Regions from separate parts of the Homo sapiens genome. Here all the other regions are linked to region 1. The links come from fine-mapping of genetic effects on gene expression. A gene starts in region 1. Each other region holds a variant in brackets. All regions are shown on one strand. Distances are between the middles of the regions.

The links. PIP is the estimated chance that this variant, and not a neighbour inherited with it, causes the effect.
Region 2: its variant is fine-mapped to the expression of KIAA0040 in visceral fat (GTEx, PIP 0.91).
Region 3: its variant is fine-mapped to the expression of KIAA0040 in skeletal muscle (FUSION, PIP 0.95).
Region 4: its variant is fine-mapped to the expression of KIAA0040 in whole blood (TOPMed, PIP above 0.99).
Region 5: its variant is fine-mapped to the expression of KIAA0040 in whole blood (INTERVAL, PIP 0.92).
Region 6: its variant is fine-mapped to the expression of KIAA0040 in neutrophils (CEDAR, PIP 0.94). The same link has a PIP of 0.9 or more in aorta.

What each region holds. Positions count from the first base shown.
Region 1 is chr1:175,189,705-175,194,780 of GRCh38, reverse strand. It overlaps KIAA0040, which reads left to right and starts at 2,005. Exons shown (of 4, transcript NM_014656.3): 1 at 2,005-2,141. RefSeq lists enhancers at 1,343-1,452, 2,173-2,322, 2,563-2,612, 2,753-2,802.
Region 2 is chr1:175,263,685-175,268,760 of GRCh38, reverse strand. No RefSeq gene overlaps it. Among named protein-coding and RNA genes, the nearest start is that of KIAA0040, 73 kb to the right of the region's middle. The variant G/TG (reference allele first, on the strand shown) is at 2,191.
Region 3 is chr1:175,230,717-175,235,792 of GRCh38, reverse strand. No RefSeq gene overlaps it. Among named protein-coding and RNA genes, the nearest start is that of KIAA0040, 40 kb to the right of the region's middle. The variant G/T (reference allele first, on the strand shown) is at 3,027.
Region 4 is chr1:175,126,493-175,131,568 of GRCh38, reverse strand. TNN (tenascin N) reads right to left here. Exons shown (of 19, transcript NM_022093.2): 13 at 4,484-4,614; 14 at 3,405-3,537; 15 at 2,823-2,974. Among named protein-coding and RNA genes, the nearest start is that of TNN, 61 kb to the right of the region's middle. RefSeq lists enhancers at 478-1,384, 1,385-2,293. The variant C/T (reference allele first, on the strand shown) is at 2,761.
Region 5 is chr1:175,306,229-175,311,304 of GRCh38, reverse strand. The region is part of intron 1 of LOC105371623 (a long non-coding RNA gene); the gene reads right to left. Among named protein-coding and RNA genes, the nearest start is that of KIAA0040, 120 kb to the right of the region's middle. The variant G/A (reference allele first, on the strand shown) is at 2,138.
Region 6 is chr1:175,155,405-175,160,480 of GRCh38, reverse strand. KIAA0040 reads left to right here. Exons shown (of 4, transcript NM_014656.3): 4 at 1-3,495. Among named protein-coding and RNA genes, the nearest start is that of KIAA0040, 35 kb to the left of the region's middle. The variant C/T (reference allele first, on the strand shown) is at 2,973.

The DNA of each region.
Region 1 (5,076 bases):
TCTTTTCTCTTAAAAGCAACCCTACATACCCATCACCCTGGCCAGAACCAATCTGTAATGTTGCTCCAGACTTTCAGGAAAGTATTTTCTATGGCCTCCCCGCAATAGGCGTCATTCAAGACCTGTACATGATCCCTGCTCAAGTGTGGAATTCCTTCACAGAAGGCAAGTTCCTCCTCTACTAGATGATATGGTGGTAAAAGGATGCACTGGGTCAGGGGGAGCGGCGGTTGGAAACACTTGGATTCAAACCTGGCTCTACCATTTATTAGCTATGTGACCTTGAGGAACTTCCTTAGCTTCCTCTCAACCACAATTTCCTCACCTGTACAATGAGGATAATACTACCTCTCATAAATGTGTTGTGAAAGGTTGAATGATACACTGTGTGTAAACCTCCAGGCAGGAGATCCCCATTCCCAAATTTTCAGGCCAGCATTCAAGGCCTTACTATCATCCATCCCAGGCCTGTCTTCCTCATGGCCCTGTTAGACTCTATACTCTGGCCTTAGGCTCCAGGAGTTTTAGAGGAACCTACATAGGTACATAGGTACATTGTACATAGGTAGACAACTGCAGGCTCAAAGTGTCATTACAGATTTGAGCTTCTCCCGGCTTGTGAATCTAGTCTTCCTCTGTAAAAAATAAATAAATAAATAAATAAATAACTTATTTTCCTCTTTTTCTAGCCATTTTTGGCGTTTCAGGCTGGATGGTGGGTTTTCTCTTTGGCCTTTCAACTCAGAGCCACGTGGTTTCTCCTGAATAAACAGAAAGGAATCTCTTGAATCTCAGTTGTGACAGTTGGTTGCAGCAGTCATTTTAATGCCCACTTGGAGAAGCCAAAGGACACCCATACTCAGGCACAGTCGATGGAGGGCAAGTCCTGGTTCAGCACCTGGCACCTGGTACCTGTGTACCTGGCAAATACAGTCGAGGGAACAGCATTTCAGGCCCTTGTCAGGGAGGACCTCCCAGGATGACACTGAGGAGGCCCCTGAAATGATCCACAGCCAGGTCCTGGCATCCCCCTCTTTTCCCACCCACAGTATCCCTGGAGGCACTGAACAAGCTCTGAATCATCAGAGCTTTGTGTCTGGAGTCCCCTATTCAAAGGGGCGCAGGTCTTTTCATTTCCTAGCATCCCATGTGCTCGGAACTAGAGCCAAGAGATCTGAATAGAAAGTAGATGGAGAGCAGCTGAGGATGAGAGGGAAGAACCCCTGAGAACTTTTTGAAGTCAGCTTTCCCCTCCGTCATTTGCTTGTGACAGACAGCTCCTGGGGCGCAGTTTTCCTTAGCGCCTCCAGGCAGCAGAGACAAAGACTCTTCTGAGATGTCACCTGCACCCCTTGGAGCAACCGGCGTTGGCTAGAGGGGACTGTCATGCTCATTTGTCCCGATAAGACATCGGAGCCTTCACCCAACCTGCCGCATGGTATCCCTCTCCAACGCCTCCCACCCCTTCCAGGAAGGCCCTCTATTTAGGCAGCTGTTTTCCCTGAAGCCGGGTTTGCCCGGAGTTCTGTGTCCCATTCCTGGAACACTGGTGCGTCTGTGAGAGACACCGGGGCTGGCTCCGCAGCCGCTGTGTCCTGAAGGAGGCGTGTTCCGGGACTGAGGGGGCAAGGACACGTAATGGCGGGGGGCGGGGAGTGGGGAGCCACCGGCGGGAAGACGGGGAGGGAGGGCGCGTCTGGGGCGTGTGCGCCCAAGGCCAGAGGCACCCGAGGTGGGCTGGCCCAGGGTGGAAAGCCTGGGCCGAGCCCCTGGAGCGGGCGGAACGGCGAGCCAGATTCAGGAAGTTGTGCCTGTGACATCAGGGGCAGGACAGAGTTGGAGCGAAACCTCAACTATGCCAGGCGTCGGCCCGTAGGAAGGCAGGGAACACAGAGGGCGCTGCCCTCGGCGGCAGCGGCAGGTACGCGCGGGGGTGGAGCGGGGCGGGGCGGGGCGGGGCGGGCGGCTCCCACGACCTTGGCCGGCGCCGGGGCCCTACACGCCAGACCTGGCTCGGGGTGGGAGTGCAGAGGCAACCAAAAAGGAACCCACACCTCCCTCCAGGGCCCGGGGCGCTGTCAGACGGGGCAGCAACCAGGAGATTCCCTGGGCCTGCAGGAAGCCCTTCCGCGGACCGAAAGGTGAGTTTCAGGACTTTCTGTTATGTTTTTTAAAAATACATTTTTAAGCGCCCTCTGTTTGGAAGAAGACGCCCAGTCACTCCTGTCTTTAGAAGGATGAGACCTGCCCCAGAGATACAAGGAATTATTCCTAAGTAGCCTCTTGCGCCTTCACAACTTTAGTTCTGGTGTGTTTCCCTCCTTCGCGAGGACTCTCAGGAGTCTTCCTCTCTGCGCCTGGGCTGAGTCCACATGAACTCCTCGGAGGTCGGCGGTGGAGTTACCTTACTCCAGCTGCCGGTAGGAGCGCTTTGAAGGGGACACATGGAAATTCTGTTTTTTACTGAGAAAGCTAAGGCCTGAGACCCTCCGGAAAGCATCGCGGGCTTAGGTGTTTCTAAACCATTCTAGGTGAAGCCAGATTTTCTCTGGAGCTAAGGAACTAGCCAAAACGAAAATATGGCGTGGAGCCAGGGGCGGAGAGGAAACCTGTTTGCTATTCTGAGAGTTTCCAGGGAGCTTGCTGTGACACAGATTACTTCCTAACTTCTTTGACTCTCAGTGGTCCCACCCCCAGACCCCCCATCCCACCCATGAAGGTAGAGTGGGGGACATAATAGGACCTGTTTCCCTAACATTCTGAAGAGCTTTACGGGATTCATCATATGATAATAGAGTTAAGTAAACTATAGATGATAGCTAGTGGGAAGACCAGTCCTGCCTAACCGAAAGGGAAACTGAAGCACAGACAAGCACTCACCCTAATTTAACAGAACACCGGCAGCCAGCATGCCATGCTACTTAGCGGGATTGTGCCACCGATTGCGTTATACGAGGAAGGGAAGGAAAAGACCACTGGAGCATCTTGGAAGCTCCTCCCTTCTAAAGCAGTTGCATTTCATTTGCTCAGCTACAGCTCATAAGGACCTGAAGCTAATTTTAAGGAACCCTCATTCTGAAGTTCTGTTAGATAATGGGAGAGCCTTGAGTTACAAAGAGCAGGACTTAAACATAGCATTGATGCAACCTGTTCCTAACCCTTTTGCAAATGGTTTGCAAGTTCTATCTAAAGACTTCTGCAAGCGTCTTACCAGCCTTTAAACTGGTTCAGTTGCATCAACCACTTAGTCTGATGTGCCTGCCCTTCACCCAGTGCTGGGCTGGAGAGGCAGCTGTACAGGAAAATCTGACCAAGTCTTTCCTTTTGTCTGAAATTCTGCCTCTCTGTCCCCATCCCAGATACAATTTTAGGAAAGAGATGCGTTGTAAAACAAAAGTTTCTTTGGCCTCCATGCATTGTCAATATTTGGCCTGTGAAATGAGTATGACTTCTGTCCTCTTCCCTAAAGACTAAACCCAAGAGAATAATAAACACTCAACAAACTAAGTTATTGATTTCACCAAAGAGGGAGATGCATCCATTCCATACATTCATTCAACATTTGCCAAACCTACCGTGTGCAGGCCAGTATACCAGGGCCTTGGAGTCCAAAGATAATGAGATGGTTTCTGTTTTTGAGGAGCTTCAGTCTGGTAAGTGAGACAGATACAGAAATAAACTGCAGTTCAGGATAATATACATTGTAATAGCAGTAGCTACAGGGCACTGACTAATCCAGGGGAGAGGGCAGGAGATCCTTCCCCAGAATTATCTGTGAAGTCCACACCACAGAAGTGATGGATGAGCAGGGTCTTGGAAATGACTAGGAGTTCCTAGGGAAAGTGTGTTTTGAACAAAGGAAAGAGGGTATGCAAAGTCAATGGCAGGTAGGGAATAGCGTGTAATAGGAATTACACTGCTAGACTGAGAAGGGTGAACTCCCTCCTATAGGAAGCCATTTTTGAGTTTTTAAGCAGAGGAAGGATCCGGTCAGATTTGTGTTTGGAAAAAGAATTATTGGCCAGATGGGGGCTGGCTTAGAGAGATGGGAAGCAGAGATAATTAAGACCTCAGCTAAGACAATGGCAGTGGGAACTGAGGAAAAGGAATGGATTTTAGGAAGTAGAATCAGAAGTACTTGGTGACCAAGTGAATGTGGTAAAGGAGGAATGAGTGAATAGAGAGTGATTATAAGGTGTTGAGTGGGATAGGCAGGGGAAGGTACCTTGTAGAGCCATTAATAAAAATCATGTAAGCTAGAGAAGGAGTGGGCTTGGGAAGCAGATTGTGGAGAAGGCAGTGATGAACACTTTAGGCATATTAAAGTTGAATATGCCCAGGAAATGTCCAGATGGAGATAAGCAGTTGGGTATACAGGTCTGGAACATAGGTGGAGGTGGAAGGCAGCTAAAGAGGCCTGTGGTAGCACCACATTGGTGCTGAAGAGTCTTGTATTTGTCAATAGTGGCCTATAGATATTTTCATATCATATGTTGACTTCCAGATGACTTTCTCCGAACGCTCAAGGCTTTCTCAGGATACCTTGGAGGATAATTCCTAAAATAAAGAAGAGAATTCTGGGTTCATGGCACATAGATAGTAAAGATGCATTTAATTATCACTCCTCCATGTGAAAAATTAATACTTAGTTCAGTTGTAAGATCTGTGAAGACCTTTCCAGAACTCACACTCCAAGTCTTTAGTTACCTACCCCTGTGTGGGAGAGTCCTGACTTCATAAAAACAAGAAGGATGACCTACTCTGACTAATTTCAGACCCCTACAGAGTAGTTATTTAGGTCTGGCTGCCAGTGCTCGGCTCAGGATCTTGTGTGACCTGCATGGAAGAAAAAACCTTGAGCTTGGAGCTAGAGATACATGGGTTCAGTTCCTGGCTTAACTGCTTATTAGCTGACCTTGAACAAGTTCTTGAAAGCTTCATTTCCCTTATATTTAAAATGGGGATAATTATTACTCACCAGGGCAATGGTTAGAATCAGAATCAAATTGAAAAGGAAAGTACATTTAATGTGCTACATAAATTGTAAGACTCTATAAAAATGTAAGGGGTTTTATT
Region 2 (5,076 bases), 74 kb before region 1:
GGAGAAGAGTTGAGTAGTCAGCCAAAAAGAATGACAAATGTCCAGTTTCCCAAAATATTTTTTATCCTCCCCAACTTCCTTACTTCATATTCAGTTAGACTTTGCTCTCTCAACCTCCTACAACACATACATTCCACCTCCTCTGTCTAGTACAAATGTTAAGGCAAAATGAATTTTCAGAAACTAATCTACAAATAGCTGAGACTCTCCAGCAAACATTATAATAACATGTTATTTAATGAGCCAAGCTGCCTCAAACCTGTGGAGCTACCACTGCTGGCAATGGCTCAGGTTTGAAAGTTACAATCAAAACTTCACGTGTTTTTTTGGTTTTGTATGCCCACTTCACCACCCTTGCCCCAAGTAACCCTTCTAGGCATTAATATACATGTTTACATTTTTAAAGATAATTTTATTAGTTTTCTCACACTTAAATTAAAAATATGCCTCCTATCCTAACCTCCCCCCACCCCTACACACAGCTGGCTAGGTCAGTGTTGTGAAATTAGGCAACACTTTCTTCAAGAAATTCTTGGGATTCCTTGAGCATGTTTTAGGGAGCATCTTAACTGCCCAGAAATATTAAAGGACTCTAAAGTGGCTACCCAATAACAGCCCTGCTATGCCTAATGGCCAAGAACAAAACAAACATATAAGTGAGCTTAGTGGTAGAATAGGTCTGGGATTTGGAGGAGTGAATGTTCCAGGGGAGTGTGATGTGGAGTCTGACATCACCCAACCAAACTCCTCTTAGCTGAGCTGTCCACTCTGGGAAGGCATGGGCTGTAGGGCAAAGGAGAGACTGTGTCACTGAAGTTCAACAGCTGTGCTCTGCAAAACACTCCAGAAAGAGCTGATTAGCAGAGAAAGGCATTCCCCCATGGACGCAGAGGGAGAAGCATCCTAAAGCCATCAGGCCAGCTGGAAGAATACACAGCATCCCTGGCTGACCAATGGCTGTGGAAGTCAGAGCTGCTGGCAGAGGCTCTGCTGACAACTGTGAGAAACTGCTGGCCCCCCACAGATCCCAACCTAGCATAACCCCAGGAAACCAAGGGAACATTTGAGATGCACAAACATCTGTGAGAGCAGCCCCAGAAATATTTAGGAAGAGAAACTCCTGGAAGCAAAGGGATCTCTGCCTGTCAAGGATGTTTAGGCTCTGAGCATTGATATTTGGAGTATTACTGTAAATCTGATTTGACTTCATAGCCAAAGATAAGTAAGATCTGGGTCTTTCAGTTACAAGTGTTGAGGTTCCTTGTTTAAATTTTGATACACTCTTTGAGCACCCAGCAGCTCAGGAGTATCACCTTACCCATGCACCCCAGTTTATAATTCCTTTGTAGGAAGTATGCTATTTTGTAATACATATTTGGTCTTCATCCTATTTCCTGACATTCATCTCCTAAAACCCTTGGAAATCTCTGGTGTGATGAGTGTCTTTTGTATGCTGAGATGCCTGGTAGATGGGGGCACCTTGAGAGCTTCAGGATGGGGGTTAGTCACCCGAAAGACCATGGCCTAATTAGAAAGTTGGGTCCCCCTAATCTCTGGGAAGAGGAGGGAACACTGAAGGTTGAATTGGTGACCAATGGCCAATGATCTAATCAATCATGCCTACTTAATGAAACCTACATAAAAATCCAAAAGGACTGGTTTCAGAAATCTTCAGGATAGCTGAACACATGAAGCTTCTTGGAGGGTGGCACACCAAGAGACGGCCTGGGAGCAATGTTCAGTGCCCCTTCTTCTAAACTTTGCCCTGTGCATCTCTCTACTAGCTGTTTTTCTGTATCCCTTGTAATACTCTTTATAATAAATGGGTAACATAAGTAAAGTGTTTCCTTGAGTTCTGTGAGCCACTCTACCAACTCAAAGAGGGGATTATGGGAATCCCCATTGATAGCCAGGTGATTAGAAGCACAGACCATGCTAGTATCTCAAGGGTGGGGGCAGTCTTGTGGGACTGAGCCCTCAACCTGTGAGATCTGACGCTATCTCCAGGTAGATAATCAGAATTTAGTTAAACTGTAGGACACCCACCTGGGTTCTACTGGACAATCTACTACAGAATTGCTTCGTTGTATGTGCGGAGAAATCCCCACACATTTTGATAAACAGAGGTGCTGTGTTGTATTAAATGTGAGAGTGGACAGTAGGAAAAACAGTTTGTTTGTTTGTTTGTTT[G/TG]CTATCCTTTGAAGAGGGAGCTTTATAACAAACTCCAAAAACAAGCTTCAGATGGAGCCTCCAATTCACCCTCTATTTGCATATGAGGCACAGCTACACAATTTGAAAGCAGTCCTGTAGGTTGAGAGTTCACAACCCATACCACTTTGGAAAAACTGAGGTAACACTTAGATCAGATGGGGGACAACGTCAAGGCAAAACCATTAATACACTTCATAGGAGACCCCACCCCACTTTAGTCCTCCTGTGTATGGCTGATTTGGATAGAAGACCCTCCAGAAGAAGAAGGTCCTCTAGTCCTTTTTACCTTGTACCAGTGCTACTTGGGCTCATGAACCATCCCTTTGCTATAAACTTCTTGAGAGCATGATTCATATTTGCTCCATGTTTTATCTCTATAACTCCTAGGATACTGTAAATAAAATAGTCTTCCCTTCTCTGCAGTTTTGCTTTCCATGACTTTAGTATTACCTATGATCTGAAAATATTAAATGGAAAATCCCAGAAAATGACAATTCATAAGTTTTAAATCACGTGGCGTTCTGAGTAGAGGGATGGAATCTAGCCCTGTCTCCCTCCATCCCACCCAGGACATGAGTCCTCCCTTTGTCCAGTGTATCTACACTGTATATAGTACCTGACCATTAGTCCACTTAGTAGCCGTCTCAGTGATAAGATTAGCTATCTCAGTATCACAGTGCTTGTGTTTAGGTCATTCTTATTTTACTTATAATGGCCCCAAAGTGCAAGAGTAGTGATGCTGTCATATTGTTATAATTGTCCTATTTTATTATTGTTGTTGTTAATCTCTTACTGTGACTAATTTATAAATTTAACTTTATCATAGGCATGCATGTACAGGAAAATAAACATTGTATATATAAAAGTCTGTTCTATCCACAGTTTTAGGCATCCATTGGGAGCTTTGGGACTTATCCCTGGTGGATAAAGGGGAGACTACTGTATTTGAATAAATGAATAAATGATAAATAATGACAGATATTTGGAGTAGTAAGGTCATACCACCTGAAGTTTCAGTGACAGATGAATAGCACCTGTTCTATTACAGGGAAGCTCTTACTTTTCTAGCAGTAGTTCTTGGCCCATGTTGAGAGATTACTTAAACAACAAGGTAATACAACACACTCTTCCCCTGGTCAGTTTAGGACTCATCCCATGTCAGCTTTCACAAAAAAGAAAAAAAAACATAAAAATAACAATCTAAAGAATGCAATAATAAGATTGGCCAGGGTCCCTGAATCCCTAGAAATGTTCTCATAAAGTTGTTGTGGAAACCCAATGTTGTGTGTCTAAGTGGTCTCCTGGGTGAAAACACGGTTCCCTCCTAGATGTGACTTGGAATATGAATGAAATGTTAGCTTTGGTTCAGAGATGGGCATTAAGAAACAGCTAGTTTCGGCTGACTGATTGCTGGGTTCCAAGTACACTGAAATCTGGCTTCTGAATACCACCTACTCCAGTGAACTGCTTCAACTAAGGTCACTCACAACTTCCTTATAGGTAAAAATCAATAGCCCCCTTATAGTCCTTACTTCATGTAACTTCTCTGCATCTGTTGGCGCCTCCTATGTACCTTCTCTTTCAAAATCCCTTCTGTATCTTCTAGATGCCATGTTCTCGAGTATTTCTTATTACTCCTTAGTCTCTTTGTAGTTGCTTCTTGCCCTGCCCATCTCTAAACTGTTAGTGTCCCCTAGCAGTTATCCTTGGCCCTCTTCCAGTTTCATCTACTCCCCAGACAAGACAGACAATGAGTTCAAATCTCTATTTCCCACAGTACCGATCAGCCCTTCTCAGTTGCTTTTGCAAGGACATTAAGCTCTAGTGCCCTTAGGTATGACTTGTATATCATTAATGGACTTCTCTCCTATGTATTTAGAATGTGAGTAGTTATCAATCATTCTGGGAAATAATTGAGAAAAATAGTCATGCAAATAATTTTATGTAGGACTTAATTCCTTCCAAGAACCCTTCTTCAAGCTGATTGGCACTGGACCCATAAAGCCAACTGCCTAGCAGACATCTCCACTTGGTTGTTTCACAGATATCTCAAAACCCCCAATTCAACAATACATCTTATTACAGCCCTCATAATTCCTCTCCCCTGTGTTACCTATCTTGATAAAGACCATCACTATATTACTACTTCCTGATTTTTCCATTATTAGATGTAACCTATTGATTTTCTACTGTAGAAGATGAGGATAGGATGTTCTCTCTCACATACATCCCTGTTTCCAGCATACACTTTCCATCCCTCCACCCTACTTGTAATTTAGAATTTTGGTAGCATAAATATTACTTGCTTATATTATGATGACTATGTAAACATGTTTTGTAACTGAGCCATGTAATGTACTATAATGACTTTTCCTTTCTTGCAAAACTTTCTGGTTTCCTTGAAGTTAGTTGTCTTTTGTTTATTTGCTTAGATTTTTATGAATGCACCTTTAGTTTTTTCTGTATACTTACCAGTAATTCAGCTGATTGAAAGCTCTATGTCTAGGGGTAGACTCATGGTCTTCATTCACATTTCCACCAATTGTATAATCCCTCTTGGTATATTAGGTATCCTATCAATTTTCTATCAATTTCTGTTTCTTGAGGAAACCATCCTGAAGCCTTCTAACCAGCTCCATCCTGAGCTTCCAGCTGTCCAACTATATTACAAGACTGTTCATCTTGTTAAGTCTGCTCACCATCATTATGGGGATGCCACTCAACTCTCTCTGTTGTTTGATCCTTTGTTTCCTGGATTGCACAGTTTTCTCTTACATGGTATTACTCCCTCATTTTGGTGGATCACACCCTCCACTAGCTTCCTAATAAAAGATGTATGTTAGCAGATTTTTAAAATGTTTCATG
Region 3 (5,076 bases), 41 kb before region 1:
ATTGCTGAGACTTTCCAGAGCATTTCACATTTCTAAAAGTGTGTTCAAAGTTTCCTGAATTTTTTTATTGTTTTTTCTTTAAGCTATCTATTCCCTTGAATATTTCTCCCTTCAATTCTTGTATCATTTTTTGGGTTTCCTTGCTTTGGGCTTCACCTTTCTCTGGTCTCTCCCTGATTAGCTTAATAACTAAACTCCTGAATTCTTTTTCAGGTAAATCAGGTATTTCTTCTTGGTTTGGATTCATTGCTGGTGAAGTAGTGTGATTTGAGGGGCATGTTGATGAGCCTTGTTTTGTCATATTACCAGGATTGGTTTTCTGGTTCCTTCCCATTTGGGTAGACTGTGTCAGAAGGAAGGTCTAGGGCTGAAGGCTGTTGTTCAGATTTTTTTGTCCCACGAGGTGCTCTCTTGAAGTAGTACTCTCCCCCTTTTCCTGCAGTTGTGGCTTCCTGTGAGCCAAACTGCAGTGATTGTTGCCTCTCTTCTGGGTCTAGCCACCCGGCAAGTCTACCCAGCTCCAGGCTGGTACTGGGGATTTCTGCACAGAGCCCTGTGATGTGAACCATCTATGGGTCTCTCAGCTGTGGATACCAGTGCCTGTTCCAGTGGAGGTGGCAGAGGGTGTTAGTGGACTCTGTGAAGGTTCTTAGCTTTGGTGGTTTAATGCTCTATTTTTGTGCTGGTTGGCCTTCTGTCAGGAGGTGGCATTTTGCAGAGGGCATCAGCTGTAGTAGTGTGGAGAGGGACTGGCAGTAGGCGGGGCCCAAGAACTCCCAAGATTATAGGTCCTTTGTCTTCCTCTACCAGGATAGGTAGGGAAGGACCATCAGGTGCGTGCAGGGGTAGGTGTGTCTGATCTCAGACTCTTCTAGGACAGGCCTTGCTGCAGCTACTGTGGGGGATGGAATGAGATTCCCAGGTCACTAGAGTTTTGTACCTAGGAGGATTATTGCTGCCTCTGCTGAGTCATGCAGGTTTTCATGGAAGTGGGGGAAGGCCAGCAGTCACAGGCCTCACCCAGCTCCCACACAAACCAAAGGGCTGGTCTCACTCCCAACATGCCCCCCACCACAGCCTCGAATCTGTTTCCAGGCAGAGGGCACACTTGAAAACTTGCCCCAGACTTTCTGCCTCCCATTTGTGAAAGAAAAGGGCTTTAGTTCTTCCTCAGTCTGTGAAGTCTGCAAGCAGGATTTGCACCCTCCCCCAAGTTCTGGCCAGATTGTTACAAAGTTCAGCTAGGGAAGTCCTTCTCCTTGTGAGGTTTTACCCCCTGCCCTTCTGGCCTCCCTCCTGATGGATCCCTGTAGTGTCAGGCAGGAATGGGCTGCTTGGGGATTCAGTGAGCTCTCAGGGCCTCCCTGCTGCCTCCTCCACCCCTGTATTTTGCTAGGCTCAGCTCTCTAACTTGACTCAGTTCCAAGTAAAGTCAGGGACATCTCCTGCAAACAGACCTTCAAATTCTCCAGTGGGTGTGTGTGTGTTTGGGAGAGGAGGGTCTCCCTTTCCCACTTCTGCAGTTGGGGCACTCACAGTATTTGGGGTCTCTCCCAAGTCCTGCAGTAGCAGTCCGCTTCCTTCAGAGGGTCTGTGGGTCCTCTCAGGATTGCTGGTTTGTTCTTGCAGTCGATCTGGAGCTAAAATGTACAATGCAAGCCTCCGCATGCTGCTGTCTCCGGAGCTGCAATCTAGTCCTACCTCCCGTCTGCCATGATCTTCTCAAGTCCTCATTAATAACTATAACTTGACCATTTTGATGGAATGATGGAACCAGAAGCCAAATTCAGTGAATTGAGAAGAAATGGGAAGTGAAGAAGTAGAGATGAGAATTACAATGGACTCCAAAAAATTTGTATGACAAGGGGAGAAGAGAGGTTTGTTGAGAACTAGAAGATGTGATTCAAGGGAAGCTTTTAACATTGGAGAACATAAGTAAGTCAACAGACTTAGAGAAGGAAAGGTAGAAGATACAGGATGGAAGGGGGATGAATGATGTAAAAAGTCCTTTTAAAAAACAATAAGCAACAGGATTAAGAGCACAGGTGAAGAGATTGACCTTTAAAAGAGGAGAGTGACTTTAGGGACTGGAAAAAAGGGGCAGTGTAATATTTAGAATGATTTTGCTTGCAAGCAATAGAAAATCCAACCAACCACATAAAGTTTAAAGAATAAGACAACTTTATTATTTTATTTATCAAAAAGTCAAAGAGTGGGAGGGTTACAGGTAGGGTTGGCTAATTTGATGGCTTAACAATATCATCAAGGACTCAGTTTCTTTCCTTGTTTCTATCCAGCACTCTCAACACATCAGCTACTCCCGTCATGGTAAACAGACCACTGCAGTAGCTCCAGTCTACATTCAGAACAAAACAGGGATAAAGAGCTCTTTTTTGGGCTCCATTTTTTGAGAGAGAAAAACACTCCCAGCATCCCTCAACAGACTTCCATTCAATGGCCAGAATTTTTTCACATGTCTAAACCAAGTGCTGGCAAGGGAAATGAAGTAATCATAGTTTTGGGCTAGGCTAATTATGATCAATCCACTGGGGCTAGGCAAGAGACTGGTCTCCCTGAAGAACATGAGTACCAGATACCTAAACCAAATCAAGGTTCTGTTATCAAGGAAAAAGGGTGGGCATAACTATGGGTAAATATCTATCACAGTTGAGGTAAATGTGGAAAAGTTTATATTCAGGGGTAGAAATTATGCTTAATTTCATTGATTTTTCTTGATTTTCTGCTGAGAGTGAAGAAATAGGGGTTGAGTATGAGGATTGAAAAAATGAAGATATGAAAGTCATTGAAGGAAATGAGAGAAAGTGTTAATTAAAGATGAAAGATTGAGAGGCAGGGCTAAGGGACAAGCTAAAATGGGAGACCATGAAATTTTTAGCACATCAACGCCAACCCGTACGACTACACAATTATTTTTCCAGTATATTCCTCTCTCTCTTCACAGGTACAGAACAAAGGAGACAGGGAGTAATAGTACTATTGATTCTAGTTTGGAATTTTACTAGGTG[G/T]TATAACAGAAGCAAAAGGATGAAAAAGAATCAAAGATGCTTGCAGAAGAGTGATTCAGATATCTGTATAACCCATGGGATCTAGGTTGCATACAGAAAAAAAGTAGTCAGAAAGGTGTTAATAAAATGTGAGGAAAATGGAGTGATCAAGGGACAGGAAGTGCATATGAGGTCAAAGTGTAATGGAAGAATATTTTAAGGACTGGACATTGGGATCAGACGGCAGGATCCTGGAGTACTGCCCAAGCAGACGTTGGTTGATGAGGAAAGAAATATAATACACTTGAGTCAACAATGTCTAGCAGTTTGGAGACTGGGTTGTTGGATTGTCTGACAAATGTTAAAATATCCTGGGACTGTGTCCAAAATAAATGGGGACAATGACTGACAGACATCCCAAAATCATCAATTAAGGAAGGGAACTGTGATAGTTAATACTGAGTGTGAACTTGATTGGACTGAAGGATACAAAGTATTGATCCTGGGTGTGTCTGTGAGGGTGTTGCCAAAAGATATTAACATTCATGTCAGTGGGCTACGGAAGGCAGACCCACCCTTAATCTGGTGGGCCCAATCTAATCAGCTGCCAGCAAATATAAAGTAGACAGAAAAACGTGAAAAGGAGAGACAGGCCTAGCCTCCCAGCCTACATCTTTCTCTGTGCTGGATGCTTCCTGCCCTCGAACATTGGACTCCAGGTTCTTCAGTTTTGGGACTTGGACTGGCTCTCCTTGCTCCTCAGCTTACAGACGGCCTATTGTGGGTCCTTGTTCCTCAGCTTGCAGACAGCCTATTGTGGGACCTTGTGATCGTGTAAGTTAATACTTAATAAACTCCCATATATGTATATAGATGTACATGTACATGTGTATGTATATGTGTGTATGTGTATATATATACACATATATGTATATATACATATGTGTGTATATACACACATGTATATATACATATATGTGTATATATACACATATGTATATATACACATACATGTATATATACATGTGTGTGTATATATACACATACATGTATATATACATGTGTGTATATATACACATACATGTGTATATACATGTGTGTATATACACATACATGTGTATATATACATGTGTGTATATACACATACATGTATATATACATGTGTGTATATACACATACATATATACGTGTGTATATATACACATACATATATATACATGTGTGTATATATACATGTGTGTATATATACATACATGTATATATGTGTATATACATACATATATGTGTATATATACATACATATATGTATATACATACATACATATATGTATACATACATATATGTGTATATACATACATATATGTGTATATATACACGCATATATGTGTATGTACATACATATATGTGTGTATACATACATACATATATGTGTATACATACATACATGTGTGTATACATATATGTGTATACATACATACATGTGTGTATACATACATATATGTGTATACATACATATGTGTGTATACATACATATGTGTGTATACATACATATGTGTGTATACATACATATATGTGTATATATACACAAACACACACACATATACATACACATGTATATGTGTGTGTGTATATATATGTGTGTGAATATGTGTGTTTATATAGGGAAGTTCATTATATATACTCTATTATACATATATGTGTGTGTGTATATATATATAAAGGGGAGTTTATTAAGTATATATATATATATATATATATATATATATATATATATATATGTCCTATTAGTTCTGTCCCTCTAAAAAAACCCTGACTAATACAGGAACTAACCAGGACATAGGCTGATGTCAGTGACCAGGAGGAAAGAACACGATATGAGTGAGTGATAAGACTTAGAAGAAAAAAAAGCTTCCATCAGAAGATTAATGAGTGCTGATCTGGAGGTGGAGGTGTGAGTTAGGAAAACAGCAACTTTTTCAGGGGTGGAGGATGCATGGAATGTACAATGAGTAGCCTCTATTGGTGGAGGCTGCAGAGGAAGTCGGGTCTTCAAGAAGATCTAGGTCTCAA
Region 4 (5,076 bases), 63 kb after region 1:
ATCAGGCAGCCTTAATTGACTCACTCAGAGTCTAATCCACTCCCATTCTATGAGATGAAAACACCCTATAATGAACTATTTGGGTATCACAAAACCCCCTTACCAAATAAGTTTCAAAGGGAGAAAAACAAACAAACAAAAGAAACCTCTTTGTGTCTGGTTCTATACTAGAGTTGTCATTGCATTCTAGAACTTACTCAATGCCCTGAATGACTAAATACAGAGAAAAAAAGTCAAACTTGCATTGAAATGTCTGTGGAAAGAGCCTCTAATGCATTAAGACTTTCAAGATGGAAAACAAAGATGGAAATATTTGAAACATTAAGTGTTCCCTGATGTTCTTTCCAGCCTCCCACCAGCGGCAGAGTTTACCTCAGGGCACAGTTCTTCTGGCCTATTCTTCAGATTGAGTTCCTGTTGCTTGGGATGGAAGAATTACCATAAAAGGATTTTGAAAGCTCAATAAAACAGAGAAACAGACCATGGGTCATCCTTCAGTGACAAAGGACTCTTGAACCCCCCCAAAAAAACTGTAACAACTGTCAGTAAAATGTTTTGTGGGGAAGTTTTCAGGACTCCATGTTTTCTGGAGCATGGTGGCTTTAAGTAAAACCCTGCAGAACCTCAGTTCATGCATGACCCCCAGGAGTCTGGCTCAGAAAACAAGACTTGGGGTGGGGTTGGGGCTGGGGAGGGTGAGAATGCACAGTGGTTTTATTATTTTTGGAACCGATCTCTGTGTTTGAGGAGGGGTCATTTGCATGAGCAGGATGTAAATGGCAAGCTCCTTGGGGGCAGGGATTTCTGTTGGTTTGGTTCACTGCTGGATCTTGAGTACATGAAGCAGTGCCGACACATAGTAGGCACTCAATAAATATATGTGCAATAAGTCATGACTATTCCAGGGCAGACAGACTGACAGATCTCTTTCTAAATGTTGCCCCAGATAACTCCTTCTGTGTGGGAGCTTGGCTTACAAAAAGGCCACACTAGACAATACAAACGTCCTGCCAAAAGTCAATTACAGGCACAAAGGCAGGAAATTGGGCTGCAGGCCTGAAGGGACAGAATGCTTAGCCTTACAATGGTGCTGATGAAAAGCAGCAGGTACAGCCCTATGGGTCTGGTCAGGTGGAAGACCTCCCATGTTACATTCTGCTCTGTTGTTTTTATAAATCAATCGGGAATTTCCCCCAGCCAATCCAATTACTGCCTTTCAACCGTCAGATGTCGCTGTGCAGATAATAAGTTTTCTTCATTGCTGCTCATCAGATGGTATCTTTTTATTCATGGCTGCTCAAGTGTCTTTGGTTTCCCAGGCCCCTGAGTGAATGTGTAAATGAATAAGGTTTGAGCACTATGAGATCATGCTCTCTCTTTCCCACAGTGAGTTGCGGATGCACAGCAGGTTAAGGCTGCATGCTGGCTTGGAGCAGTGAGAGTCTTTATCATTCAGGCACAGGGAGAAAAGGGGCAAGGGGAGATGGAAGGATCAGATTGCAACCCTCAAAAACAGCTTATCATATAATTGGATCAGGCTGATGCAATCAAAGAAGCTGCCATGTGGTTTAGGCAGACAATGGCCCAAGAGAATAAAACATCTACACAGAAGAGGGACAATTAGAGCATTGCCCAAGTTTCCGTCTTTCAGACTTTAGTCTTTCCAATCAAAACCTCAAAGGCCTTGTTGCTGTACTGTGGAGACAGGGTACAGAACTTGGACAATGGACTCCAGTTCAGAGGTCTGAACTCCCCAGTCAGGCTATGCATTCGCATCTTGGATGACCTGAGATGAACTCACTGAGAAGACCAATGATTAGGAGGCTGGAGTTTTGAAATCTGGTCCCAGCTTTGTCATTCTTGTATGACTTAGGCCAGGCACTTCTTTCTGTGGGACTCACTGTCCCTATCTGTAAAATAAGAAAAACAATCCTCTCTCACTTACTCTAAAGCTGTTGTGTGAGGGTCATGTGTACAGAAGTGCTTTGAAGAAGGTAAAATATAGGTAATACATACATATAAGGCATTACTAGATGATGATCAACTCACAAGCCTTCATAGTCATCAGCCTTAGTCTAACCAAGCCTGTTCTAGGACAGTGGTTAAGTACTAGGCTCTATCCTTACAGTTGATTGGTGTCAGAGGCATTTGAACCAGAGCCATCTTGAGTGAGTGCTAAGACAATGAGGCTGGGACTTGCTGGGCTGCATTCCCAGAAAGTTAGGTATTCCTAGCCTCCAGATGTTTATGGTTAAGGGAACAGATTGACAGTGTTTACTAAACAGACCCAGACTTAGGAATGTCCTGATATCTTGAGAACAGAAGCACTCCTAATGTTGCTTTAAATATAATAATATTGATTCTCGCAAAATATAGTAATTAAGAAAATTAATCCTTTATCACGAACCATTGTAATAGAGCACATCCCCTCATGATCTTTTTTTATCCTATATATAAACAAGTCTTGTACATAGGGTGCATGCATTCCTCCTTACTTTCAGAAACGCCCTACTCTGTCTATGGAGTAGCTGTACTTTCACCACTTTACTTTCTTAATAAACTTGCTTTTGCTTTGCATTGTGGACTCACCCTGAATTCTTTCTTACATGAGATCCAAGAACCTTCTCTTGGGATCTGGATGGGGACCCCTTTCCTGTAACATTGGGATCTCTCTAAAAACAGCTACAAGCCACCAAAACTCCTCTCTTCCATGGGTGGAGAAGAAATAGGGCTCCAAACACTCTATGGAGCATCCATGAC[C/T]GGCATCCTGGGCTGAGAAGGAAGGCCCTACACAGAGCTCCCCAGGGTTCTGCGTGACTCACAATCCAGCCACCTCCGTCCGTTTCCATGTCACAGTACACCTGCAGGGGCCGGCTGGCATCGCCATGCAGGTAGATGGTGTACAGACCACTGGCGGCATTGCTGTTCTGCTGAACCTGACTGCAGTCCGAAGGGTGTGGGAAACGGGCACCAACTGGGAGCCAAGCAGAGAGAGTGTTGTTAGGACAAGGGCAAGGAGGAAAGAGGTGGAGTTTCTTCCTATTTTAAGGCAATTTATTTTGTTTGGAAATTATTTCATAACTTCCTACTTCAGCTTCTTCCAACTCTTCACTCATATCTTATTTTTCTCATCAACTCCCCAAATGCACCAGGAAAAGGTCAAGTTCACATCACTTCCTCCCCCAACTCAGCTCCCTCACAAAGTAACACTCTATTTCACTCCTCTCTTTAGCCTCCCCACTGTGGGGTGGATTTCTTTTGAACACACAACCCCATTTCCACTTCCCCATGCCTAGAGAAATCAATAGTTCTGCATCCACTTGCTCCTCCCTGGACTCCTTTGCTAGGCTTTCCGGTGCTGGTTCTCATTGCACGGTCGTTCAGAGTACAGGATTCCATATTACCTGTGGAGAGGGTGGTGGATACATTTCTGCTCCGGCGACCACCCTTAAAGGCAACAAGGGAGACAGGGTAGGTGGCGCCTTGCTCAAGGCCTTGCAACGCAAACCTCTGGTCTTCCCGTCCCAGCTGCATCTCCTACCAAACAAGGGAGAGATTAGACAGCCAGTGACTCAGTTTATCACCCACTAGCACCCTAGGTGTCAACAGCGTTCCCTGGTGCTAATGACAGAAGCTCTCTGAGAGCACAGTGTTTTGTCTCTCCGAAGCCTCAGTGGCAGCCCAGAATCGCAGTGGGTCCCAGCCACTTCTCTGGAGAGCCATGCCATGGAGAGTCAGCACTACTGGGAGCATCAGCTGAGAACCAGCACCCAGGACTGCAGCTTCAGGATCACCGGCCAAGTTTCTGGGAGACTTTGGCCTTCAGATACACACAGGGGCTCTAACTATAGTGGCTACATTGCCAGCAGGAACAGGCTGGCAATGCCGCGCTAAGGAGAAATTAATAGGGGAGGTGAAACTGGCCACTGATATCTGAGACAAGGAGATAGTTGATATTTCAATAAACTTCCTTCTGAACCAGTCTTACTTCCTCTATAAACATAGGGCTAACCTTCCTAGCTGTGCTGTCATAAGCACTAATTAAGGTAACACATAAACCTAAGTGTCCTTCCTGTTTTTATTTCCTCCCTTCTTTCTTCATTGGCAAGGAGGGAGAATAATAATTTTCCATTGGGACAGGTTTTGAAAATTTGCTGGCCTTCAGATTCTAAGGGGAGGTATAACCCTTGAAATAAGGGTTAATCAATTTGTTCAATAAATATATATCGAACACCTACCATGTGCTAAGCACTGTCCTATGCACTTTAGATATGGTGATAAATGAAACAGACAAACATAGAGCTTACATTTATTGGGGAAGACTAACAATAAACAAAATAACCCGGGGCAGATGTACAACCAGCAATGTGATCAGTAAAGATCAGCAAGTTGCCGTGAGGCCAGCAAATGAGCTGATTGGCCCAAGTTAGTTGCTTCACACAGAAGAGAAGGCACCAGGAGAAAAGACAAGGAATCCCCGTACCTTAACTGTGCCATCTGGGAACTGGTAAGTCAGAATGTAGCCGTGGATCTGAGCAGAGGGGGGCGTCCAGGTCAATATGCCACCAGACTGCGTTACAGCAGATGGACGAAGGTTTCTGGGAGGGTCGAGTTCTGTACGTAGAAAGTCAGGTAATTGTTATTACTAAGATACAACTGAGGCAAGGTAATTTTTGAGACATCAGTTTATATTTTCCCCTTTTCAAACCCTCCCATTTCTCCTCCTTCTTTCAAGCAGTTTGCAGGCTCTCTTCCTCCCTGCCACAGGGCCTTTCTGACCTTTGTTTCTACAAGTACAGACCCATTAGAGACAAGAAGAACAGGGCGTTGGGTGGGTCCCAGAGGAAAGGAATCTGGGCCCCCATTTCCCAGGCAGGTTCCCACAAAGTGGTGGATATTAACAGCCTAGATTGGCAGATAGATCCTCAGAGATGGCAGGGCTCCCAAAAGGATGTGGAAAGATAAGAGGGCCACAGATCTGAAAGGGCCATGCACAAAGAAACCAGGGTGACTTGGCCCGCCTGGAAAGTTGCCTGAAATGCTGGATGGGCCCCAATGCCTGTCACTGGGAAACTA
Region 5 (5,076 bases), 120 kb before region 1:
ACACTGAAACGATTGGCAACAACAATAACAACCTGGGTTGCAATTAAAGGTAACCCAGTTGATTTATTGACTTGGAAAAGCAAGAGATGATTAAAGAAGTCAATGTGGAACGGCCTGCCCTCCTATCCTCCCCAACCCCCAACCAGTACCATTTAAAGAAATTGAGACATATTCACATAAATCTGGTTTTATCTTTCAACGAAATGACCTAATGTTAACTCGGTTTGAAATGTCCACGCTACAAAGCAGTGTTTCAATACAGCAGTACTATTGACATTTTGGTCAGATAATTCTTTGTTTTAGGGACCTGCCCTGTGCTTTTACCCACTAAATTCCAGTAGGACCCCCGCCTCCCACCATGTTGTAACAACCAAAAATGTCTCCAGACATTGCCAAATGTCCTCTGGGGGAAAAAAAATCACCCTCAGTTGAGAGCCACTGTTACAGGGAGATTTATCACAGAAAGAAGAGATAACTTCAATCCAGACTTCATGGAAGCAAATTTCAAAAAGCTTCAGGCTGGTTCATTTCAGCCCAAAAGACAAAAGGATCGCCCAAATGGAACATTGTTATAGCTTTTCTATTGAATTTGTCTTTATATAGTTTATAAATGTTTGAAAAGCTTATATCTGTGTTTTATTTTAGTTTCATTTTGTCGGAATTACTCTGGGTATTTTTGTGGTATGAGATTAGATTCCAAGGTAGAAAGTGGAATTGATAAAATGACACTTACAGAAAATGAGAGTTTGTCTTACAATGGTTCAGTTTGTCATGGCTCCCTAGGAATCATTTAGATTTCAAACCAAGAGTCACTTGTAAATTAGACCTTTGGCTCTGTTGCTTCACCTGATGGACAATAATAAATGGTATCGATTGTTTAAGATCCCCAAATACCTCACAATCTCATATGTCCTAAAGGTTTCTTAAGAAGAAAGAAATACAGGGTAATTAGGCACTAAAGATAGAAGGAAGAGAAGATTTTGTGCCACAATTCTACCTAAGAATGATATTCAGGTCCAGGATTGCAGTCAACAGAGCAAGGAAGGGCAGTATCACCACCCAAGCTCCCCAGGAGAATGTGAATATCTAAGTCGCATGCCTAAGGGAGTGTTCCATGATGTTAGGGAAAGCAAAGGGCTAACCAGCTGTAGTCTCAGCTTGTGGCAGAGGAAAACACCCTCAGCTAAACCCCTTTACCCAATTCATCCTCCCAGATAAGAAATCCAGTACACAGAAAGGAAGCGACTAGGGGCAGGGGAGGGTGGGGGCAGATGTTCACCTCTAGCTTTTTCAGAGATGTTTCAATGCTGATTTTTCTTTCCAATTGTCCTGGCCATGACTGTTGGGCTACATGGTCCAGTTTTGTTTTAAACAAATGTAGTCACCACAGTAGGTCTCTGTAATGGCATGTTAGTTGTGAAGGTCACCTGGGATCGGGTCAACATGTGAATGTGACTGGCATCAATGGTCCTCACATCTACTTCTCTTGGCCAGACAGACAGATCAGTTCAGTCTCTCAAGAAACGCTGATAAAGTCCCTTCCTGCAAGGGTGGACCTTACCACAGAGCTCACAGCAAAGAAGGACAATTCGAAGTTCACCTCTTGGTGCTAAAGGAGGTATGCTGCTCTCCGTCATGATCCTGTTTATCACAGGGTCTTCTTTCAGATCGAGAGCCAGTGAAGCATCCCCAAACAGGTCTCTCCTATTAGAGCCTGGCTGCAACCCACTACCAGATTTGCAGAACCATTTATTTCTCTTCCAAGACAAAAACACCCTGAGGAGGAAAGACCTCCAGCTTGGCGGAGTAAAGGGTTTATTTTCTTTCCAAAGGGCTGGAGAGGATTGGGAAGCAATTGGGAAAGCACCGGTGAGAAGAGAATTCCCATCATCTGTGAACTCTTTAAGGGAAGAGCCTTGGCTTTCCATTTCTATTTCCAGTATTTAGCCCAGAACTCTCTTTGGACTCAGTATAGAATTGATGTAAACTGAATTGAATCAACCGTATCTTCCGTCTATGAAAGAAACTCAATTAACAGCTTTTAGTACTGTAAAATTTAGGACAGATCCATAAAATATTCAAGAAGAGCAAATATTAAGATTATCTGAGGAGCAGAGGAAAGAACATTGTATTTGAC[G/A]TCAAAAGACCTATATAGTTGCATAAGTTTGTTCTCACACTGCTATGAGGAAATACCTGAGACTGGGTAATTTATAAAGGAAACAGGTTTAATTGACTCAGTTCCGCATTGCTAGGGAGGCCTCAGGAAACTTACGATCATGATGGAAGGCAAAGGAGAAGCAAGCACCTTCTTCACAGGGCGGAAGGACAGAGTGAGTGAAAGCAAAGGAAATGCTAGACATAAAACCATCCGATCTTGTGAGAACTCACTCACTATCACAAAAACAGCATGAGGGAGACTCCCCCGTGATCCAATTACCTCCACCTGGTTCTGCCCTTTACACGTGGGGATGATGAGGATTACAATTCAAGGTAAGATTTGGGTGCAGATACAGAGTCACACCATATCAGTAGTCAACCTCTTTCTGCCTCTTACTGGTAGTGTGCCCTAGGATAAGTCCTTCTGTCACTCAGGAGCTTAGTGTCCGTATATCTGTAAAATGGGATTAAGAATAATGTCCTTCCTACTTCACAGACTATTGTGAAGGGCAAACTATAAAATGGGCAGAAAAATGCTTTACAGCAGATGTTCTTACAACTTGAGAATGTGTTAACTTGGTAGAAGTTAAAAGGTGTTGAAAAGCAGCCTTATTATCTTCATAACAGTGTTATGGCCTGAAATTTCACTCACCTGGTTCTCCAAAACAACTTATTGCCTTAAAGAAATGCTCTGGGCAAAATAAGAGCATCAACCTGCTATCAAGGGTCAGCTGATAGACACCTGAGAGCAGAAAGGGGACAAGGGTGGGGTTGGAGCCGAAGGGAACAGAGGACGCAGGAGTGGGACAAAACCTCCACATCTGAGGCCAGCCCCACAACGACTCTGCTGGGGAAGAATGGTGAAGAAGACCAGGCTGTGTGCAAAAGCCAGCCCGGTATGTTTCAGAGCCACAAGCTCTCTAAGGACAGTAGTCAGGTTCCGGTCCATTCCTCCACCACCTGTGCTGCCCCAGGCCCTCAGCAGCCATTACAAACAGGTAGTTAATGGCAATCCTTCAGATGTGTGGGTTGAGGGCACCTCACTATGAGCCCTTGTATTTTTCAAAACTCTTCCCAGGAGACCACGACACTAGTTGAGAGGCCTGCTGGGTTCTCGAGTTAGCCCAGCAAAGGGCATGCTTTACTAGTATAGATGATAACTTCTAGGAGGGGGCTTTTGAGTAGCTCCTAAGGATTGTGGATTTCTGTTGTGTTGAGTGGGCTGCCTGGGACCCAAGGGACAGAGAGGCAGAGCACTGCCATCAGCACCTTCCTCATATCCCCCTTGTAACTACAGTCTTAGCCCCAGTTCTACATAGATATGAAACAAATGTTTAAAGAGTTTTCATTTGAAAAGGCAGCCATTATTCTAAATACCCACATTTCTCCACCCGGCTTTGCCCCCAAACTTTGCACAATAGCCCCACATAGGAAGGAATATCTGCTTCTGCCCCTTAGAACAAATCCAAAACTTCCCACTGACAGAAGTGTGGGCTATCAGAGAAGGTCCCCCACTCCACCCCACTGACTGTGAGCTAGGAGCTGGGAACTCTCTGTCCCCCAGCCTCACCCCGGCGGCCTGGGATTGGGGGAACAGCCTGTCACATCCTAGCCCTGATTCTGCCTGGCAATATAAAAGAGCAAAAGGCTCATAGCCACCTTGAAAATCATTCACCTCTCCCAGCTCCCAACCTATAAAAAGAAAAGGAACAGAAACTATCACATTCACACTCACTCCTGCTTGCACCCAGGTGGTACAGACAACTTGGCAGTTCGTTGAATTTGTTGCTCTCACTCTGGAGGTGTTGTGTGGGCTGTGACAGATGTGCTGGGGCAGCGGGGCCTCTCTGCTGCAGTTTCTCCATCAAGGCATGATATTTACACACTGAAAGCAAGACAGCACCTCCTCACACATAGTAAGGCACACACTGCCGAAGAGAGCCCTGGCAGGTCCTAACAGGTGACCATGTCCTTCAATGCATCTCCACTGAGCCACCTAAGTACTCCTGACCTAGGGCCTTTGTTTACTGTACCATTCACTTGTTCATTCATGCATGCAAGCATTCATTCATTCAATAAAGATTCCAGAACACACTCTGCCTCTTACTGGTTGTGTGCCCTGGGGTAAGTCCTTTTGTCACTTTGAAGCTCAGTGTCCTTATCTGTAAAATGGTATAAAGAATAACTGCCTTTCCAAGTGAAGGTGAGGAGCAGGCCATGATGAAGAACCAGAGTGGCTGAAGCACAGATGGGTGGGGATGGGTAACACAGGTGCAGCTGGGAAGGACGGCAGGACCTAATCAGACAGGGCCCTGCAAGCCATGCTTGAATCTTCATCGATTATAAGAGTGGTGGGGCTGGGCACGATGGCTCATGCCTGTAATCCAAGCACTTTGGGAGGCCGAGGCAGGTGGATCACAAGGTCAGGAGATCGAGACCACCCTGGCCAACATGGTGAAACCCTGTCTGTACTAAAATACAAAAAATTAGCCAGGCATGGGGGCACACACCTGTAATCCCAGCTACTCAGGAGGCTGAGGCACAGGAATTGCTTGAACCCGGGAGGCGAAGGTTGCAGTGAGCTGAGATTGCACCACTGCATTCCAGCCTGACGACAGAGTGAGACTCCATCTCAAACAAACAAACAAAAAAAAATAGTGGTGGGAAGCCATCGGAGGTGCCCAAGCAGGAGAGTGAGATGATCATGTTTGCATTTAAGAGAGTTGGCTGTGGCTATTGTGTAAATGGTGAAGGGGTACACAAGATTTGGGGGGAAATCAGGAATGGTTCAGATGAGAAATTAGGATAAGTTGAACTCAGGTGGTTTTAGTAGAGCTGGGAAAATATATATCCTCAAGAGATATTTAGGAATTAAATGGACAGAACCAAACATGTGGATGAGGAAGTTATAATGATGGT
Region 6 (5,076 bases), 34 kb after region 1:
GCAGACCCAGGCATGCCTCCCACCTGTCTCTGGCATACCCCACATGCAAAGCACAAAGAACATTTATCCATACATCTCAATATGGTTCCCAAGTGTGTGCACATGCACGTAACACACACACACACAAATTCAGGTAGCAGGTACGTGGGCAAGTATATTCTGCTCATCAAATGGTCATTGGCTATGTACTTTGTGCAGGGAAGTACATTATCTACAGTCACAAAAATGTCTCATGGGAAAGCCTTGCCAGATTCAGACACATATATACAATTTCCTAACCAGCAAGGCCCCCATACACCATCTATTCCATAAACCACTCAGGTTACAGATGCATGCTTTCCTATTTCTAACTCTACACATAAACTTTTACTGGAAGTACTCATAATTGGACATTCCAGCAACCTGCTACAGTCCCCACCCTTGTGTGTCTTGATACAGACACACCAAGTTTCTGTGCCTCTGACCCCTCACCTGTGCCAAGATGTTTAAAGTGTGATGGTTCAAAATTCATTGAAAGCTCTTTTCTTGTAACTCATGACAAAGTCCGTCCTCATTGCCACTGAGAGGTGTTTAATGTGATCCAAGACCTCTCTGTGAAACATTACCCCCGCAAACCACTCAGCAAAGTGCCTTTCTCCAAGCAAGAACAAAGAGCTCTTGGTGGTGACTGCTAGAAAATTATGGAAGCCCACTCATTTATGTCAGTGGACTGCAACTGTGTACCTGTGCAATGTTTACAGATGGAAAGGGTGAGGAGATGCTACACCTGAGCTAGGTATCTCCTATATAACCAAAGTTTCCAGCAGGGAAGGAACTAGACAATCATCAGTGCAGTCTCACAGAAGGCAACACTGGAAGTGATGTCATAAGGTTGTGATGTGTGCACGGTATGGCACAGGTGGGATGCAGAGGTAACAGAGTTTAAATGAAAGTAGGATGAAGCTATAAAGAGGTTTATTTATATTTATATTGAAGCTCAGGCAAGTGCCTTGCACACAGTAGGTACTTATAACTAACTGTGGTTACTGTTGGATATGTGATGTTGTTAAGGGTAAGCTTGTAATACCTCACCAGTTCTCCCCGAGTGATCTTCTCTTCTAAGTGAGCCCACTAATTGCTGCAATGGATGAAATTGGGTGTTTAATGCTGGAGAGCACATGTAGGTGACACATGTGCCTTGAGGTATGTGAGGACATGTAAATTAGATCCACAGTGAGCTGAGGAGGGCTTTCCCCGCCAGAGTGAGGTTGGGAAGCAGAGTTAATCCACTTATAGGATGAACTGCTTGGTATTTTTATTGTATTGTGACTGTATTACAAAGATGGACAATTCACTCCTTGGGAGCAAGTTATGCTCTAGAAGTTTATTTACAAATATGCTGGGCAGCTCTCTTGAAATATTTTCCCAAGGAAGCTATTCTACACAGTGGCAAAATTGCTATCTAATTAATAATGTAGCTAAACTATGATATTTATAGTAGCAAAAAACTAAATTCTATAAGATTGCATTAAAGGAAAGATATATTCTATTTGCTCACTTGGGCTGCTTGGTACTCACCTGCCCTCCAGGTGTACTTTAGGCCTGTGGAGGGTGGGCATTTAGTGGTGACCCTTGCACCAGGGTTTTCTAACAGATGACCCTGTGAATCATAATTTAAACCTGCATATATTTTATAGCCAGTCACATTTGCCCTCTCACCCTATATGGCCATAAACTGCCTAAGCACTCAGGCCTCCCACTCATCAACCCCTTTGACCAGAGAAAGAAGCACTCTGGTTCTCTATCCCCTTGTCACATAGAGAGTTTGTCATGGGGCCTCTGGCTGTGCCCTTCACATAACAGAATGACTTGCCATCTGCCTGCACCAAACCCAGGGATGTGGAAGACATCTCCCCACAACTGCCACTGCTCACCAGGACAAGCTGCCCTTCCTGTCTCCACCTCTCAGTCCCCCTAGAATGGATGGCTGGGGAGAGGTGGAGGCTGACAGCTGAGACGTAGTGTCAGATATGATCTAGGAGGGCGGATCACCGGGATCCGGGACCATACAAGTAACATGGTTTCCATGGCAACTGCTTGCTCCTTTGAATTAAGACAGCAGTCAGTTGTCATTGCCATGACAAGGCCTCTATCTCCAGGCACAATGTCCCTGCTGTCTCCTAATCCAATGGACTTGCTCTCACCCCAGGGATGAAACACCCAGAAACTCACTTCTCAGTCACTTCCACAGCCGATGACTCAGAAGAGCCAAACCCAGAATGGGGCCTCTCTTTTCCCCATCACAGACTCCCCTGACAACCTTTCCTGGCGTAACTAGAGGAGTCCCAGTGCAGGATAGGCCCTAAACGTTTTGTTAAATAAACAGGTGCATGAAAGGAGCCTAAGGCCATTGTTGATATCCACTCTCTTCTTTCCACTTCCTTCTCATCTTTTTCTCCATGTTTTATGCTTCTCTGATTCCCTCTTCTGCCTGCACCAGACCAGCCCCAGCCCTTTATTCCTCTCCATTTTCACTCCTTCCAGCCTCTGTCCCTGAACTGCCACTGGCAACCCATGGGACCTCAGGACCAGAGACTGCTTGACTCATCTGGGGAGGGTAAGTTCACGGGGGACAAAAAAATGATTCCTAAAGAAGAGGCTTCCTAGACCAGCACAGGCTCGAGAAAGACATCCCCTAGGCCTGGACTTCTGAGCAGCTTTAGCCAGGCTCCGGACGGCAGCCAGAGGAGGCCTTTCCCCATTGCTCCTTTCCCCATTGCTCAATGGATTCCATGTTTCTTTTTCTTGGGGGGAGCAGGGAGGGAGAAAGGTAGAAAAATGGCAGCCACCTTTCCAAGAAAAATATAAAGGGTCCAAGCTGTATAGTATTTGTCAGTATTTTTTTCTGTAAAATTCAAACACACACAAAAGAAAAATTTATTTAAATAAAATACTTTGAAAATGAAAAGTCTTGATGTAGTCAGATGGTTACT[C/T]TCTTAACATTAGGTATTACCCCCACTCAGACATCACTCAGAAATGATCAATGCAGGGACTCTTTCTGTGACACAAATGTCCCAGCCCTCCCTGGTCACCGCCTTCGCCATGGTAGAGTCATAGGTCTGAGGATGAGGAATGTGGCTGTCTCACCCTTGCTTGCAAAACAGATGGCCTTGGAGACCAGACTCCCTCAAAGGTGCCAGCTACAGGAAAAATATACTGATGTTCCTTGGCAACACTTACAGAACTTTCCATCAATGAGGTCCATCAATGGCTTCTTAAAGGAAAAGGGGGGAAATAGCAAAAACCTAAGGAAGAATGGACCTTTGAGTTAAATCCAGTGTTTGTTGGGAAAGGAGGGATCAAAAACCTCTATAGTAGCCACTAGGGCAAAAACTGTGTGTATGTGTGTGTGTAAGTGTGTGTACACTGTTCAATATGGTTCAATATGGTACCAATAGCCACATGTGACTATTTAAATTCATTGCAATGAAATAAAATTAAAGGTATACTAGCTCAGCTATGTCTGCCATATTTCTTTTTTCTTTTTTTTTTTTTTTTTTTTTTGAGATGGAGTCTTGCTCTGTCATCCAGGCTGGAATACAGTGGTATGATCTTGGCTCACTGCAACTTACACCTCCCGAGTTCAAGTAATTCTCATGCTTCAGCCACCTGAGTAGCTGGGATGACAGGCATGTGCCACCATGCCCAGCTAATTTTTTTTATATTTTAGTAAAGATGGGGTTTCACCATACTGGCCAGGCTGGTCTTGAACTCCTGGCCTCAAGTGACCCGCCAGCTTCCCAAAGTGCTGGGATTATAGGCATGGGCAACTGCGCTTGGCCATGCCAGCCACGATTCAAGTGCTCAGTAGCTACACGTGGCTAGCGGCTGCCATCCTGGACAGCATAGGTCTATGATCTTGGGGGCAGGGTCAGACACCTGGGAAAAACAGCCATGCTGACTGGATTTCAAGGAGGGCTTAAGAAGGAAGGCCTAGAGCACAGGTGGACTCTTTGCCTTATCTCGCCCAAGGCAGGTTATGTCTGTAGTTCAGATGAGTTCATTCCTGGGCTCCCTTCCCCATCACCACACACTCATGACAACCAGAGAACAGAGACTCTTCATTCAGCTCCTTGTTCATCCACCCAGGACATTGCTAAACATTCTGGTGCAGAGGAGGAACTGATGCTCAGAAACCATCTGGGAGGGGAGCAGCTGCTGCACCCCTGAGGGGATGCCAGTGCTCAATGCCTGCAGCCGCACCTGCCCCGGCTCCATCCTGGCCTTGGGGTATAATATGGATTTGGACAATGAATGCCATCACGTCCTTAGCATTCTCAGTTTATCACAGCACTCTGCACTGGCCCCTTGCCCGTTGACCTTAGTAGTATTTCCCAATTCAAAGTCACAGGTTTACTGGACTGGAAAAAAATCCCTTCAACCCGCTTTCTGTCTTAGACTCAAAGGGTTGTTTTCAAACACCTGTGTGGGCAATGTCACACTATATTTCTTCAGGAATGGCTGTGACTGTGTACCTCCAGCCCTCTTTTGAGGCTGTTCATCCCATTAACATTTCTGACTGTTTACTATATGCCAAGCACGCTAGGTGCCAGTGATACTAAGTTGTCCTAGAGGGGCTCAGAACCTGGTAGGGGGGCACAGACAAGCAAACCATGACAAGACAGTGTGGCCATTGCTTCCTTAGAGGGAAGCTCCCAGGCTGGCTTCAGGACAGGCCGGGGGAGATCGCCTAGGAGGTGTCTAGAGACTTGCACAGGAAGAAACTGAGAAAGGAGGGCCCCAGCTGCACAGTCTACAAAGGCAAGTGCACCCTGGAGTAGTGATGCAGGCAGACAGGATGATGGGGACGATTCAGAAACCATCAGGGCTCTCTGGAAGCCATAAGTGCAGTGAGCTAGGACTCATGACTAGGGTTGTCCCAACCCTGATGCTAACTCCGACTCTCACTAGTTATGTAATTTGGACCCATGGCTTAATCTCTCTGTAAGACTTACCTGCTAAATAAAGCTAATGAGAGTAGCTACCTCATAGGGAGCATTAAATGATCGTGTGTACAAAGCATTTAGCACAGGACGT